Homo sapiens: one gene and its partner. The protein of the gene in region 1 interacts with the protein of each later gene in a pairwise test. Each region holds a gene or a part of one and is shown in the gene's direction. Other genes may lie near its edges.

Evidence for each region.
Region 2: the proteins of DICER1 (region 1) and TNFSF12 interact in binary tests that used the Homo sapiens proteins (3 or more experiments, as listed by UniProt).

The regions. Positions count from the first base shown.
Region 1 is NC_000014.9:95,091,530-95,098,529, reverse strand, and holds part of DICER1 (endoribonuclease Dicer), read left to right. Parts: intron 1-1,816; coding exon 1,817-2,705; coding exon of another isoform or gene 2,706-2,758; exon of another isoform or gene 2,759-3,184; intron 3,185-4,373; coding exon 4,374-4,642; intron 4,643-5,835; exon of another isoform or gene 5,836-5,961; intron 5,962-7,000. UniProt on the Homo sapiens protein: Double-stranded RNA (dsRNA) endoribonuclease playing a central role in short dsRNA-mediated post-transcriptional gene silencing.
Region 2 is NC_000017.11:7,543,754-7,552,434, forward strand, and holds the start of TNFSF12 (tumor necrosis factor ligand superfamily member 12 proprotein), read left to right. Parts: upstream 1-5,304; 5' UTR 5,305-5,400; coding exon 5,401-5,559; intron 5,560-5,720; coding exon 5,721-5,768; intron 5,769-6,366; coding exon 6,367-6,442; intron 6,443-7,045; coding exon 7,046-7,099; intron 7,100-7,189; coding exon 7,190-7,225; intron 7,226-8,681. Other genes in the region: TNFSF12-TNFSF13 protein, read left to right, coding at 5,401-5,559, 5,721-5,768, 6,367-6,442, 7,046-7,099, 7,190-7,225. UniProt on the Homo sapiens protein: Binds to FN14 and possibly also to TNRFSF12/APO3. Weak inducer of apoptosis in some cell types. Mediates NF-kappa-B activation. Promotes angiogenesis and the proliferation of endothelial cells. Also involved in induction of inflammatory cytokines.

The DNA.
Region 1 (7,000 bases):
ATTTTTCTTAATGTTTCTGATGGCACTTTGGTTATTGGAATTCATTAGAAATACTGTTCAGATTTTTATTTAGTAAGTTACTTTTATTGAAATATAGGCCCTTGCATTATATTGAAAAGATACACTGTGGTTTTGGCTGGTTGCATTGCCATTCTCCCTACCTTGCTCTGGCCCTTCAGCAAATGGGCTTAAGTGGAAACCTTTGCATGCTAAAACGCCTCTTAATAGACGAGAGTATCAAAGTTGACTTGAATGATATAGAAAAGGATTTCATGTGGCTGTTTTTTCTTAAAAGGCTTGAAGTGCTCTTGAAAAACATTTTATGAGACAGAACCCCACTCTTTTGTAGATGAAGCATCTGAAACCCAGAGGCACTAAAAGGCTTTGCCCAGGATCACACAGTTTGTGATAAAAGTCAGCCCTTTGTGATTTTTGTGCTCTGCCACTTTTGGCTTATGGTGGCACCTTTCTAAAGATACAGAAGGTTTTTTTCAATAAAAAAAAAATATTGTCTGATTTTTTAAAAATCGCAGTTTGGCCCTCTTTTTCTTAAGGACCAATCAAAAACATCTTCATGTTGCCTTGGAAAGTCTAAGATTGTTAGCAGGAAATGTTCCTTGAGGTCTGCCGCTACAGTTGCTTTTGGTGTTCCTTATTCTTGAAAAGGTGTTTCTTTCTTAATTAAAAAAATGAAAAGATAAATAGTTAGAGATATGGCTTGGCTTACTGCTATTTCTTTTCAGACAAATGTAGTGTTTATATCTTGAGTCTAGTTTAAAATATTTGTAGTATTTAAAAAATGCTTGAAGGTTGCAACTTTTTTTTGTCAGAACACTGGAAAGTTGTTACAATCAACATTGATGCACACCCTTCGTCTTCCCCCTTCACAAGTTTTTTGGTTTTTTAAAAACTTGCATAACAGAAATTTGGCATCTTTCTAGGATTGCAAAGAAGTTACATCATTACTGAAATCTAGCCCATTATTAAGGTTGTCACTCACAAATAAGCTTTTGCCAAAGAAATTGGAATTAGCAAAGATCTTTTGACAGAAATTGGATTGTTGTGTTTCATGTTAGTCTAAATTTTCTTCCATTTTTGTCAGTTATGCTATAATCTGTTCCCCTGATTACCGTAGTTCAGAGTGGAGGGAAAAAACGTAACTTCTCAAATTCATAGCTTAGTGCAGTGATCACTTTTATTTTTTAAGGAAAGCAGTGTAGTTTTTTTGTGGCAAGTATACTTTGAAGTGGAAATAGGGACAAAAAGCTTTATTATAAAATCCTATTGTACATTTTAAAAAATGATTTTATCTGTTTTTATATTATATTCTTAATTGCAAAGGTAATGCTTTTCTACATCTGGAATTTCGTTTTATTAGTTTGAAAATCTTTTTGAAAATCAAATTACCACATTTTCAAATTTTGTCAGCAAAATTGAAGATCTGTGTGATCAGCATATGAGTGCTTTCATTGTGTGTCCTACCAGAGTTAGACGACTTAGTTGAAGTTTTGCATTGTGGACATTAATTTTAACTTTATATCCATGTTCAAAGTCCTTAACTTAAAGCTTCATACTGGATAAAGGTCATTTTATAACTTAGAAAACGAACATTCAAAGAACATGTTTTACTTTGTTTATATGATTAAATAACTTATTTTATGTTAATTGAAAACAAATGGCCATGATTTTAAAGTTGCCTTTTAGTATTTGTGGTTGTCATTTGAAATTATCCATAACCCTTGCTTTTATTGAGTTTCAAACCCTTTTAAAAACAGCAGCTATGTTTCCCCTCCTTCCCCATTCCCCCTCGTTTCAGACAAAAGACTGCATGCTGGCGAATGGCAAACTGGATGAGGATTACGAGGAGGAGGATGAGGAGGAGGAGAGCCTGATGTGGAGGGCTCCGAAGGAAGAGGCTGACTATGAAGATGATTTCCTGGAGTATGATCAGGAACATATCAGATTTATAGATAATATGTTAATGGGGTCAGGAGCTTTTGTAAAGAAAATCTCTCTTTCTCCTTTTTCAACCACTGATTCTGCATATGAATGGAAAATGCCCAAAAAATCCTCCTTAGGTAGTATGCCATTTTCATCAGATTTTGAGGATTTTGACTACAGCTCTTGGGATGCAATGTGCTATCTGGATCCTAGCAAAGCTGTTGAAGAAGATGACTTTGTGGTGGGGTTCTGGAATCCATCAGAAGAAAACTGTGGTGTTGACACGGGAAAGCAGTCCATTTCTTACGACTTGCACACTGAGCAGTGTATTGCTGACAAAAGCATAGCGGACTGTGTGGAAGCCCTGCTGGGCTGCTATTTAACCAGCTGTGGGGAGAGGGCTGCTCAGCTTTTCCTCTGTTCACTGGGGCTGAAGGTGCTCCCGGTAATTAAAAGGACTGATCGGGAAAAGGCCCTGTGCCCTACTCGGGAGAATTTCAACAGCCAACAAAAGAACCTTTCAGTGAGCTGTGCTGCTGCTTCTGTGGCCAGTTCACGCTCTTCTGTATTGAAAGACTCGGAATATGGTTGTTTGAAGATTCCACCAAGATGTATGTTTGATCATCCAGATGCAGATAAAACACTGAATCACCTTATATCGGGGTTTGAAAATTTTGAAAAGAAAATCAACTACAGATTCAAGAATAAGGCTTACCTTCTCCAGGCTTTTACACATGCCTCCTACCACTACAATACTATCACTGGTAAGGAGCCCACGACCAGACTTCATTTCTGGGAAAATGAGACTTTGTGTTGATCTCATCGTGTTGGCCTTGTAAAAGTGATCTATGCATGTACAGTGTTCATGCTTAATATTCAAGGGATGGGGCGGGGAACAAAAGGAATAGAAAGAATTCTTTTCCTTGTTATTTGGGGAGCACGTATTGCTTTATAACTTTGGTTGTTGGGAGTATGGCTATCATATACCCTCATCAGTGTCATTTTATATCTGCCTAATTAGAGAAATTTTAACCTTAGTATTTTGATGTGTTTTCCCCATTTTATCCTCCGCAAATATCTTTCTCTTGCCCATTCAGTGCTGCTTTTGGTTTTTGATTTAGTTGTATATTCTGGATGTATTTCCACAGCCTTTTATTGTTCTTCCTGGACAAAAAGACCCCTCCTTTAGGGTCTTTTTAAAGATGGATAGATTAAAAGATTAAAAGCAATGATTTCACAAGAAGGTTGCGTGGCCCTTGCTGTGACTCTGCTGTCATCTTCTACTTCTCACTGTGCTCTGTATTTGCCCCTCTTTTAATAGACTGTCAACCCATTAGATTAGAAGGGAGAACAAGCCCCTCACACCCAAATCAGCTTCAGGCTGTGAAACACAGCTGAAGTTTACATTTCAATTTCTGTATCAGAAAAATAAGTGCCTGAATTCAGAACACCAAAGCAAAGTATAAAGTTTGTAGTTTATATAATAAAAGCAGCGTAGGTTAAGGTGATCAGCAAAATGTAAAAACCAAAAAGTGAAAAACTATCTGACTCTGGACTGGAAAGACTGATGAAACTAAAGCCTAATTTTCGTTATGGAGGAAAAATGATACGTGGCTTTCGACTACATTCTGCTGGAAGTTCCGAGACCTGGGTTCTCGCCTAGCAGTCCCTGCTTCTTAATTCCTTGCTTATTCTGGGACAAGTCACCATCGGTCCCTGCCTCAGTTTCCTCAGCTGGATATATTATTTTAATCACTGTGAGAAAATAGAGGTGTTGATTTAACATTGATCATTTTCACATTTTGACAACCAGTTTACCTGCCTTTGCTCCCTTTCACAACTCTTCTTTCTCAATCTCTTGGTTTGTGGTAAATTCATTTCTATAATAGCTCAAGTTAAGAAGAGGGTCTTCTTTTCCTGTCATCCTGTGTAACAAAAATAGCCCAGGAATAGTGAGGAATGGTATCACTTATGCACAGATTCCAGAGTGTGAATGAGACTTTAGCGATGGCAGCACAGTGTAGCCACATGGAGAGGTGTGTGCGGCCCTGGTTTCACTTAAGTGATGATGTGTGAGGGAGACTCGAGAGGAAGGCCCCAGCACCTGCCCAGACAGCACAGTGCCAGAGAAAAGCATTCAGTGATCATGATAGCACCTGTGAGGTTTTGTTTTTCCTTCTTAACAAGCGTTAGTCTTTTGACCACTTGAAGATTTTATGACCCCAGTTTATATAAGAAATGTACTTAATTTGTCATTAAAATTTAGTTTCCAGAGGCTTTTTAGTATGATATGTCAGATATCCTTTTTGAAGAATATATGTATGAAAATGATTGTAAATACAAATCTTCTTCGGATTTGGGGATCAGTTGCTATGTGGGGATAGTGTAAATGCTTCTGCACAAGCTTACGGTTCCACTTCGGATCCCCTCAGATTGTTACCAGCGCTTAGAATTCCTGGGAGATGCGATTTTGGACTACCTCATAACCAAGCACCTTTATGAAGACCCGCGGCAGCACTCCCCGGGGGTCCTGACAGACCTGCGGTCTGCCCTGGTCAACAACACCATCTTTGCATCGCTGGCTGTAAAGTACGACTACCACAAGTACTTCAAAGCTGTCTCTCCTGAGCTCTTCCATGTCATTGATGACTTTGTGCAGTTTCAGCTTGAGAAGAATGAAATGCAAGGAATGGATTCTGAGGTTAGTGCTGTTCAAAACGATGTTGAAAAAAGTGGTCTAACTAGGAGTCTCTGTAGTTTCAGAGTTCTGACGGCATAGTGGTCTAAAGGGACAGCAGGAGGTCAGGGGTGTGGGACCCAGTGTGCTGTGTTCTGTGGGAGCACGAGTGAACTGCAGTTTGCAGGTAGGCCTCTTGAACTTGTCTGCCCCCACTGTGGGCTGTGTGGTCATTCAGGTGAAGAGAAGGAACCAGGCCTTTCAGTTAGGTACCCTTCCCACGCCTTCATGAGGGCTTCCAGCATTGAGGCATGCCAAAGAAGTGGCCTCCACTGCCGGACCCCAAGGCAGGTTTAGCTTTAGTAAAAGCCCAGTGTAGCTTATCCTTCCTTTTTTAAATGGATCAGAAATATTTGCTAATATCTCAGGGAAGCATCATAAATATACATTCTGCTTCTACTTGAAGTGGGAAAATCTAATTTAAAAAACAAACTTCTAAATTTTTGACCATTGGAATTTGGGAGGCTTCTATTGTAAGTTCAGCCAAAGGCTGTCTGGTGACAGAGCTAATTCTAATGTGTTTGTGAGCTATTTCGAATTTTTGTAGGAAAGGATATTGCTTAGATCTTTCCAGTCTCTTAACATTCATCTGCATACCTGTGTCCCCCAGAGAGACTCTCATTTCCTCCTCTTCCCATTTCATTTCCTTTGATTTTCTTATTTTTGTAGATTTTCTTATAAGGAGTCAGGAAATACAACCTTAATACTAGTAGCTGTTTTAGTTGTCATTGCTTTAATTTGTACCTTCCCCTTTTTAATTGCACCAAACCTTTGTTGGGGAGTAGTGACTTTCTATGACAAAAATTAAGAGTAGGTTTGAAGTCTAGCCGCAGAGCCGAGTTCACGCCCTGCCAGCTGCCCAGATGTGCACTGGAGGAGTCAGTAGGCCCTGCTCTTACTTTAACGCGCCTCTGTGCTCTTGTCCAAGATGAACAGCCTGAGCTGGAGCGTGGCAGGCTGTGAGGCGAGAAGGCGGGACCAGCTCGTAGACTTCCAAGTGTTACCTAGTCTCATTCTTTAGAAATAGCTAAGCTTGAAATTTGAGGAATTAGTTAAAATTAGATTTAAGCTCTCTTTGGATGCCAGTGGGGCATATTGGTTTTGTTAGTTTTTGTTCATTCTTTTCCTTCCCTTTGTTTATATAAACATATGTATAGAAGTTACAAGAACTGATTGGAAATGTCATGGTCTGGCATTTCTAACTTACTATTTGATCTTAAGAAAGTCTCTTTACCTCTCTGGGCCTCCGTTTCCTCAGCTGTAAAAAGAGAGAATTAAACTTGGTAAGTTTTAAAATTCCTTTCTATCTCAAAACCATAAATATGAACAATAAGTCTGTTTTTTTAAGTAATCAGCAGTATAAATGTATTATATGTAACTTTGTATGGCTAAACAACCTATTAGAAATTAGTATTTTCCCACTTTCTCTTTATTTTTTTCACAAATGATTTGTGTTGATTTTAGAAAAGTTAGTACAAGTAAATAAGAAGAAAATTAGTTAAATTTGCCTGATTATGCTACCTCGGAAATAACCAATATTAACATTTTGGGAGGAATTGTGGATGTGTATAGATATAAACATATCTAAAATGTAAAATGGAATTCTGTTATGTATAGGATACTGTCACCTGTTCTTTTCACGTATAATATATTGTGGCTGACTTTCCGTGTATTGATGGGTATCGTGATGCTCAGGGGCCACACGCTAGTCAACACGTGGCTGATTGATTTAAACGCTTCTTTATGGCCGAGTAATTAAGTAGTTTTTGGTTAGGATGTTTAATAACCATGGAGGTGATAAATACGCTTATGTATCTAGTTACCTCCTTAAAATAAGTTCTTAGAGATGCAATTGCTGCATCAAAGAATTGTGAACTTTTCAAAGGCTTTTGATGCATGATTTTCTTTTATTAATTTGCATACATGCTATGTCAGATACTCGGTTATAGTGAACACATATCTAGTGGCTTAATGAAGAGGGAACTTGGAGGAAAAAATCTTTCAAATATAATTTCCCTATTTCCCTACAACAGCGATTTCTGCTCCCCAAAGCAGCATACACCCGTGCCAGCACCAGACCAATTAGTACTATTGAATGCTTGCCAAGCAGCTAGGGAGTAGAACTGTTTTAAAGTATAGTTCTTTGATTACGAGTGAATTTGAATTTTTTTCATACTTTTATTGACTATTTCTAATTCTTTGTTAAGGTTGTTTAAAGTTAGAAGTAATCTTTTTTCTTTGCTGGGTATATAGAATAATAAATGGGGTGGGGATATTTTTTCTTTTTTTCTTGAGAAGTTTGAAAAACTTTTTTAAAAATAT
Region 2 (8,681 bases), on another chromosome or scaffold:
GGAAGAGCCCAGGATGATGGCACACGCCTGTAAACCCAGCTACTTGGGAGGCTGAGACAGGAGGATCCCTTGATCCCAGGAATTTGAGACCAGCCTAGGCAACATAACAGGACCCTGTCTCACATAAATAAATAACTAAACAAACAAACAAACAGATAAATACAGACAGACATACATCTAGGGAAGACGGAGGTGGCAGGTAGAAGTGGAAAGAGAAAGAAGCCCAGGACAGGGATTTGAGTTGTTTGATTGACTGATTAAAGCTTAAATAAAGCTTAAGAATTTTGACCAAAAGTGAGTGTGGTGGTGGCTTGGGGGTGGCATTTAGTCCTCTCTTGGGTCTGTTAGCAACTCATCCTGGTTTTTCCAGAACTGTCCTGGTTTTAGCATTGAAAGTACCTCATCCTGGGAACCTCCTTAGTCCCGGCAAACTGGGATGGTCACTGTCCACTCTCAGGCTGCTACTATCACCATATTCAGTAGTCACTGCCAGACTGGGAAGGCTAGGCCATATTTATTCATTCAACAAACTTTTGCTGACCCTGGAAATACAATGCCTGCAAAGCATACACAGTCCCTACCCTTACAGACTACGTGAAATTCTTTATTTGCATTTAAGTGATTTTTTTTTGAGACGGAGTTTCACTCTTGTCACCCAGGCTAAAGTGCAATTGCACGATCTCAGATCACTGCGACCTCTGCCTCCTGGGATCAGGCGATTCTCCTGCCTCAGCCTCCCAAGTAGCTGGGATCTCGGCTCACTGCAACCTCCGCCTCTTGGGTTCAAGCTATTCTCCTGCCTCAGTCTCCTGAGTAAGGGGGATTACAGACATGCGTCACCACACCCGGATAATTTTTGTATTTTTAGTAGAGACGGGGTTTCACCATGTTGGCCAGGCTGGTCTCAAACTCCTGACCTCAAGTGATCTGCACGCTTCAGCCTCCCAAAATGCTGGGATTACAGGCGTGACCACCAGGCATGGCCTTGCATTTAAGTGATACTAATCAAGCTGGATATCCAAAAAGAAAAACAAAAAAGAAAATGACAAAGCCTTTTTTTCCTTTAGTATCTTGGTTGAAAATGTGAAAAGTAAGAAAAGTGTAAAAAGGCAGGAATAAAAAATATTAGCAGATTTCCTTTCAGTATTTTTCCTGCATGTTTCCCAAGTTACTTCCTATCAGTGTCCTAAAAAATGCAAGTTAATTTTAACTTTGGCCGCAAACCAAGAACAAAAAGGTTAAGTGTATTGAATTAATTTTTCAAGCCAAAGTTAAAGGATCTGAGGATGATCTGCTGTCTCCAAGGCTCCAGTCCCTGTTTTTTTCCTTTAGCAGGTGTGATCACACGCTGGCTGAGATGAGTAATGACTTTCCCTCTCCTCAGCACGCTTGCTGCTGTACAATTTTTTTCTTTTTACAAATTAAAATGCTGCATTCACCTGATAATAAAAATCAAGTAGAGGCTGGGTGCAGTGGCTCACGCCTGTAATCCCAGCACTTTGGGAAGCTGAGGCGGGTGAATCACCTGAGGTTGGGAGTTCGACACCAGCCTGACCAACATGGTGAAACCCCGTCTCTTCCAAAAATACAAAAATTAGCCTGGCATGGTGGTGGGTGCCTGTAATCCCAGCTACTCAGGAGGCTGAGACAGGAGAATCGCTTGAACCCGGGAGGCAGAGGTTGCAGTGGGCTGAGATCACACCATTGCGCTCCAGCCTGAGTGATGAGAGTGAAACTCCATCTTAAAAAAAAATAGGCCGGGCGCGGTGGCTTATGCCTGTAATCCCAGCACTTTGGGAGGCCAGGGCGGGTGGATCACGAGATCAAGAGTTTGAGACCAGCCTGGCCAACATGGTGAAACCCTGTCTCTACTAAAAATGCAAAAATTAGCCAGGCATGGTGGTGCACGCCTGTAATCCCAGCTACTTAGGAGGCTGAGGCAGGAGAATCACTTGAACCTGGGAGGGAGAGGTTGCAGTGAGCCAAGATTGTGCCACTGTACTCCAGCCTGGGTGACAGAGCGAGACTCCGTCTCAAAAAAAAAAAAAAAAAAAAAAAAAAAAGTGAAAATTGTGGGCATTTGCAGTCTTTGCTGCCATTAAGTCTTCTGGATTTTTCTACAGGTTGACTCTAAAAGTTGAAATCCAGTCAAAGATATTTACATTATTATGGCCACATGAACGTTGTTTACCCTCAGGCCAAACAATGGGCTGGAATTACACTTGCTTCTCCACACACTCCATCCCATAATCCATGTGTCACTCAAAGGACAATGTGGCAAGCAAGCACTAAGGCCCTAAATTGATACTGTATCAATTAAATACAATTATGTTGTGTTATAGCTTGTGTTTCATTTATTTTATTTTATTTTTTATTTTTATTTTTCTGAGAGATGAACTCTCACTCTGTCGCCCAGGCTGGAGTGCAGTGGCACAATCTCGCCTCACTGCGACCTCTGCCTCCCAGGTTCAAGTGATTCTCCTGCCTCAGCCTCTCGAGTAGCTGGGATTACAGGCGTGCGCCACCATGCCCGGCTAATTTTTGTATTTTTAGTAGAGACAGGGTTTCACCATGTTGGCCAGGCTGGTCTCAAACTCTTGATCTCGTGATCCACCTGCCTTGGCCTCCCAAAGTGCTGGGATTACAGGCATGAGCCACTGCGCCCGGCCTATTTATTTTATTTCAAGCAGTTCTCCTGCCTCAGCTTCCCAAGTAGCTGGAACTTCAGGCGTGCACCACCATGCCCAGCTAATTTTTGTATTTTTTAGTAGAGATGGTGTTTCACTACATGTTGGCCAGGCTGGTCTCGAACTCCTGACCTCAGGTGATCCACCCACCTTGGCCTCCCAAAGTGCTGGGATTACAGGCATGAGCCACTGTGCCCGGCCTATTTATTTTATTTTTTATAGAGACAGGGTCTCACTCTGCTGCCGAGGCTTCGGTTCAATGGGGTGATCATAGCTCACTGCAACCTCAAACTCCTGGGATCAAGTGATCCTCCTGACTTAGCCTCCACAGTAGCTGGGACTACAGGAGCATGCCATCGCACCTGGATAATTTTTCTTGTATTTTTTGTAGAGATGGAAAGGGGTTCTCACTATTTTGCCCAGGCTGGTCTTGAACTCCTGGCCTCAAGAGATCCTCTCGTCTCAACCTCTCAAAGCTCTAGGGTTACAGGCGTGAGCCATGATGCCCTGCCCGTATTTATTTATTTTTATTTTATTATTTATTTATTATCTTTTTTTTTTTTTGAGACAGGGTCTTCCTCTGCAGCCCAAGCTGGAGTTCAGTGCCCAGATCATAGCTCATGGCAACCTGGAATTCCTGGGCTCAAGCGATCCTCCTGCCTCAGTTTCCCCAGTAGCTGGGACTACAGGTGCACACCATGATGCCCAGCCTGTTTTGTTGCTTTTTTTTTTTTTTTTTTTTTTTTTTTTGAGATGGAGTCTTGCTCTGTCGCCCAGGCTGGAGTGCAGTCATGCGATCTCGGCTCATTGCAACCTCCACCTCCCGGGTTCAAGCAATTCTCTGCCTCAGCCTCCCGAGTAGCTGAGATTACAGGTGCCCGCCACCGTGCCCAGCTAATTTTTGTTTTTTTAGTAGAGACAGGGTTTCACCATCTTGGCCAGGCTAGTCTTGAACTCCTGACCTTGTGATCCACCGACCTTGGCCTCCCAAAGTGCTGGGATTACAGGCGTGAGCCACCACAACTGGCCCCAGCTGTTTCTTATTTACATTGTGATTTCAGTTTTGAAAATTTTCTGGAGATTCTAACTGCTTTTCTTTCTTTGCATACTCTTTTTTTTTTTTTTTTTTTTGACAGGGTCTTACTCTGTTGCTCGTGTTGGAATGCAGTGGTGTGATCACAGCTCACTGCAGCCTCAACCTCCCAGGCTCAGGTGATCCTCCCATCTCAACCTCCTGAGTAGCTGGGACTACAGGCATGCACCACCATGCCCAGCTCTATGGATGCTTTTTCTTGACTCTCTTTAAGTATATTAGGTAGTACTCTTTGTATCCTGAATTATCTCTGTTTCCTCCAATGTCAAATTTTGTTTGTTAATTTTGGTCTTTCTTTCTTTTTTTTTTTTTTTGAGATAGGGTCTTGCTGTGTTGCCCAGGCTGGAGTGTGGTGGCGTGATCTCAGCTCTCTGCAACCTCTGTCTCCTGGGTTCAAGCAATTCTCTGCCTCAGCTTCCCGAGTAGCTGGGAACTACAGGCGCCTGCCACCACGTCCGGCTAATTTTTTTGTATTTTTATTAGAGACAGGGTTTCACCATCTTGGCCAGGCAGGTCTCGATCTCCTGACCTCGTGATCCACCCGCCTCAGCCTCCCAAAGTGCTGCGATTACAGGCGTGAACCATCGCGCCCAGCCAATTTTGGTCCTTCCTTCCTTCCTTCCTTCCTTCCTTCCTTCCTTCCTTCCTTCCCTCCTTCCCTCCCTCCCTCCCTCCCTCCTTTCTTTCTTTCTTCCTTTCTTTCTTTCTTTTTGAGACAAGGTCTGTTGCCCAGGCTGGAGTGTAGTGGTGCAATCACAGCTCACTGCAGCCTCAAACTCCTGGGCTCAAACAATCCTCCTACCTCGGCCTCCTGAGTAGCTGGGACTACAGGCGTGGGCTAATTTTTTAAAACTTTTCTGTAGAGATGGGGTCTTGCTCTTGCCCAGGCTGATCTTGAACTCCTGGCCCCCAGCCTTGGCCTTCTGGGATTACAGGCGTAAGCCACCTGCCGGACCAATTTTGGTGTTTCTTTTGCATGCTGCTGGTCCTCCTCAGATGCTTGGCAATCATTGGTAATGATGGGCTTCAGAACGTGCTACCGGCACAGTGAGTGTTTTAAGCTGAAGGAATTTGAGAAAACCGCAGAAGCCGAAGGATCTTTCTTACCTTCTCCTGCCCTTCTTCCCTGAACCAGGTCATACAACCTGGAACTCCCTGCCCTTTTCCTGAAGAAGCAAATAACAGCCTCCTGCGAGAGGCGCCCTCCCTGCACCTGGGGGAAAGGAGGGTCCTTATCTCTGAAGACACAGGGACACAGAAGAATCTGAACCAACAGGCCTTCCTGAGTTCCCCACCTCCCCGCAGGAGGTGCCCGCACACGCATAGCCCCGTCGCTCCCGCGGCCGCACGCAACGGACCTCGCCCTGGTGGTGCACGCCCGGGCTGGGCGCTCAGAGGTCGGGTGGGCGCCCACTCCGTTCGCTGCGCGCACAGCGCCCGGCGAGAGGCTCGGAGTTTGATCACACACAGCGTCCGGCTTCCTGTCCCCAGCGCCCCCTCCCGCCCCGTTTCCCTTGCCCCTCCCTCTCCCCGGCCCGATCCGCCCGCCGGCTCCCCCTCCCCCGATCCCTCGGGTCCCGGGATGGGGGGGCGGTGAGGCAGGCACAGCCCCCCGCCCCCATGGCCGCCCGTCGGAGCCAGAGGCGGAGGGGGCGCCGGGGGGAGCCGGGCACCGCCCTGCTGGTCCCGCTCGCGCTGGGCCTGGGCCTGGCGCTGGCCTGCCTCGGCCTCCTGCTGGCCGTGGTCAGTTTGGGGAGCCGGGCATCGCTGTCCGCCCAGGTGAGGCCCCGCTGCGCACCCCTTCTTGGGCACATCAGGAGCTGAGACTGCAGAGGGGCCGCTGGGGGCCGCGTGGGCTGAAGGCAAGGGGAAGGGAGGATGGGTGGAGGGTGAGATGTCAGGTGGAGCGGCACAGGGTGACGCTCCCTCCTTCCCAGCAGGAGCCTGCCCAGGAGGAGCTGGTGGCAGAGGAGGACCAGGACCCGTCGGTGAGTGGGCGTGGGCGCGGTCTGCAGGCTGCTGGGGCATGGGAAGTGTGCACAGCCGAGGCTGCAGGTGTGTGCAGCTGTGCCAGCCGTACTCGAGGTGTGTGCAGGGTGTGTGTGAACACAGTGCGTGCATGGGTGCGTGTCTGCAGGGGTGTGTGTGCGTGGTGACAACTCTGTGTGAGGGGTTTGTGCTGGGGTTGTGCCACCTGAGTCTGAGGTGTTTATTGGCTGGGGGTGACGTGGTTGTATAAGATATGTGAGTCTGCGTGGAAGAGGGGTGCGGTTGTGTACAGGGTGTGTATCCTCTGTGCGTGGTGACTGGGTGCGGGCATGTGTGCAATGTGCCAATTGAATGCAGGGTCTGCGTTGGTTGTGTGTGTGGGTGGGAAAGTGTAGCTGGTCTAGAGGAAAGGGTGAGGACTGGGGCCTGACTCCCAGCTTCACCTTTGCCCGGGGCCCCAGCTGTAGTTGGCTGAGGGGCTTAATCTGTCCCTGACTTCTGTGTCTATTGCTGGCTGGTGGCTCTCCTGACAGGCCCCGTATGTCTCACTTTATATCTCTGGGAGTCTGTGGTTGAACCCTGCCCTAATTCCCCTAGGAACTGAATCCCCAGACAGAAGAAAGCCAGGATCCTGCGCCTTTCCTGAACCGACTAGTTCGGCCTCGCAGAAGTGGTGAGCATCCCTCTATCCCAACCTCAGGAAGCGGGCAGAGCAAAAACCATTATCCACAGGGAGAAACTGAGGCACGGAGGGTGAAAGGAGTTCAGAGTCATGCAGCTAACCAGCCAAGACTCAAACCTAGGGATTCTCGCCCTCCTCTGAAGCTCCTTCTGTCATATGGATGTGCTCCTTCAGACCCTACCCCAAACAGGAAGGCAGGGTGGCCATGAGTTAGAAGAACTACTGGGATCCTGATGGAGACTAGGCCTGGCAGTCAGAGGCCTGGGCCCCGGTAGGCAAAGAGACTTAGGAATGGGATGATGGGGTGGCCGGATGACCACGTGTCCAAGTCGGCATGCAGTTGTCCTGGCCCCCACCTGTTATCTCGGTGTGATTAATAGCAGCTTCCCGTTTTGCTCTCAGCAGTATCCCAGTGTGGATGACAAATTATAGTCACTCTACTTACTGAGGAAGATGAGGCCTGAGATTCTAAGGCCAGGAGTCTGGACAAGAATAAGGATGCCAGGGTTCCTGAGAGGGGAATGGGGCTGGGAGAGTTGCTCTGGGACCCCCACTAGGGCCCGCTTTGCTCATCTGTCTTTCCTTGATCCTCAGCACCTAAAGGCCGGAAAACACGGGCTCGAAGAGCGATCGCAGCCCATTATGAAGGTGGGTGATGGGTGAGCCATACCCAGGAGGAGAGGGGCAGGTGGCAGAGGGTCAGGGCAGGTCTCACCAGCCTTTTCCTGTACTTTACAGTTCATCCACGACCTGGACAGGACGGAGCGCAGGCAGGTGAGACCCCATCCCCCGACACAGCACTGGCCTCCTGGGAAAAGGGCCCTTGAAAACCTTTGACCTCCCACTCCCTTCCCGGCCATCAGTCTCAGAACCACAGAAGCCAGTTCATGAAGGTCTTGGTTCTCTCTGTGACCCAGGCGTGGGACCCCATGAAAGACCCCTACTCTTCCCCAGAACTCTGCCCAGTTCCCCCAGCAAATCACTGTCCCAGCTCTCTCCTTCAGCCCTCATTCTTCTCCAAGAAGCACTTTTCATTCTTTTTTCTTCTGTCTCCTCCATATTCCACGTTCTGATGATCTTTTTCTCTAAATGCTGCTAGTGTCTGCTCATCTTTTCCATTTCTACCCCACCCTCTACCTCAGCACCGTGACCTCAGAACCTCAAATCCAGCCTCTTGCTGCTTCCCCACTCCACACCCTCCCTACCCCTCCACTCCATCTGACCTGTGCTGCCATGCTGAGCCCCTAAACTTCACTTTTCTTGTGGTATTGGCTCTCTACATGGCTTCCAGTCTCTTCGTGGTCTGGTCTCAACCTAATTTCCCTGCACTCTTATGCTGTCTTCATGTTTGCTGCGCTGACACCCCTGCTCCCGGTGTGCCTCTTCTGGACTTTGCACATACCATCCCCCTCACCAGAATGTCTTTCCACTGTGAGAGGCAGGGAGGCATGAGGAGTGCTCAGCCGAGGGGTTCACAGCAGAGATGGTGAGAAGTGGATGGGTTCAGCCTGTGTCCTGAAGATATTACTGACTTATGGGTTGGAGGTGAAGAATAAAAGAAAGGGAGGAATCACAGATGACTTCTAGATTTTTTATTTTTTTTAAGACAGTCTCGCTCTGTCACCCAGGCTGGAGTGCAGTGGTGCAATCTCGGCTTACTGCAACCTCTGCCTCCCAGGTTCAAGAGATTCCCGTCTCAGCCTTCCAAGTAGCTGGGATTACAGGCGTGTGCCACCACGCCTGGCTAATTTTTGTATTTTTAGTAGAGATGGGGTTTTGCCATGTTTTCCAGGCTGGTCTCAAACTCTTGACCTCCAGTGATCTGCCCGCCTCGGCCTACCAAAGTGCTGGGATTACAGGCATGAGCCACTGCACCCAGCCAGCTTCTAGATTTTTAACTTGGGTATCTCTGGGAAGAATGATGCCATTTCCTAAGAAGGGATTGACCAAGGAATAAATAGGTTGGGAAGTATGTAAGATAATTATTAACGTTGAGAAGTCTAAAATAAACAAGCGGATAAATGACAATAAAGTAAATTCCAGAAATGGATGGCTGGACATTGTCGACTAGCTTAGGCTAGGTCAGGACGGATAAAGCCAGGAGTCATGGCCATATGGATGGCTTTTTTTTTTTTTTTTTTGAGACAGAGTCTCGCTCTGTCACCCAGGCTGGAGTGCAGTGGTTCGATCTTGGCTCACTGCAACATCTGCCTCCTGGGTCCAAGCGATT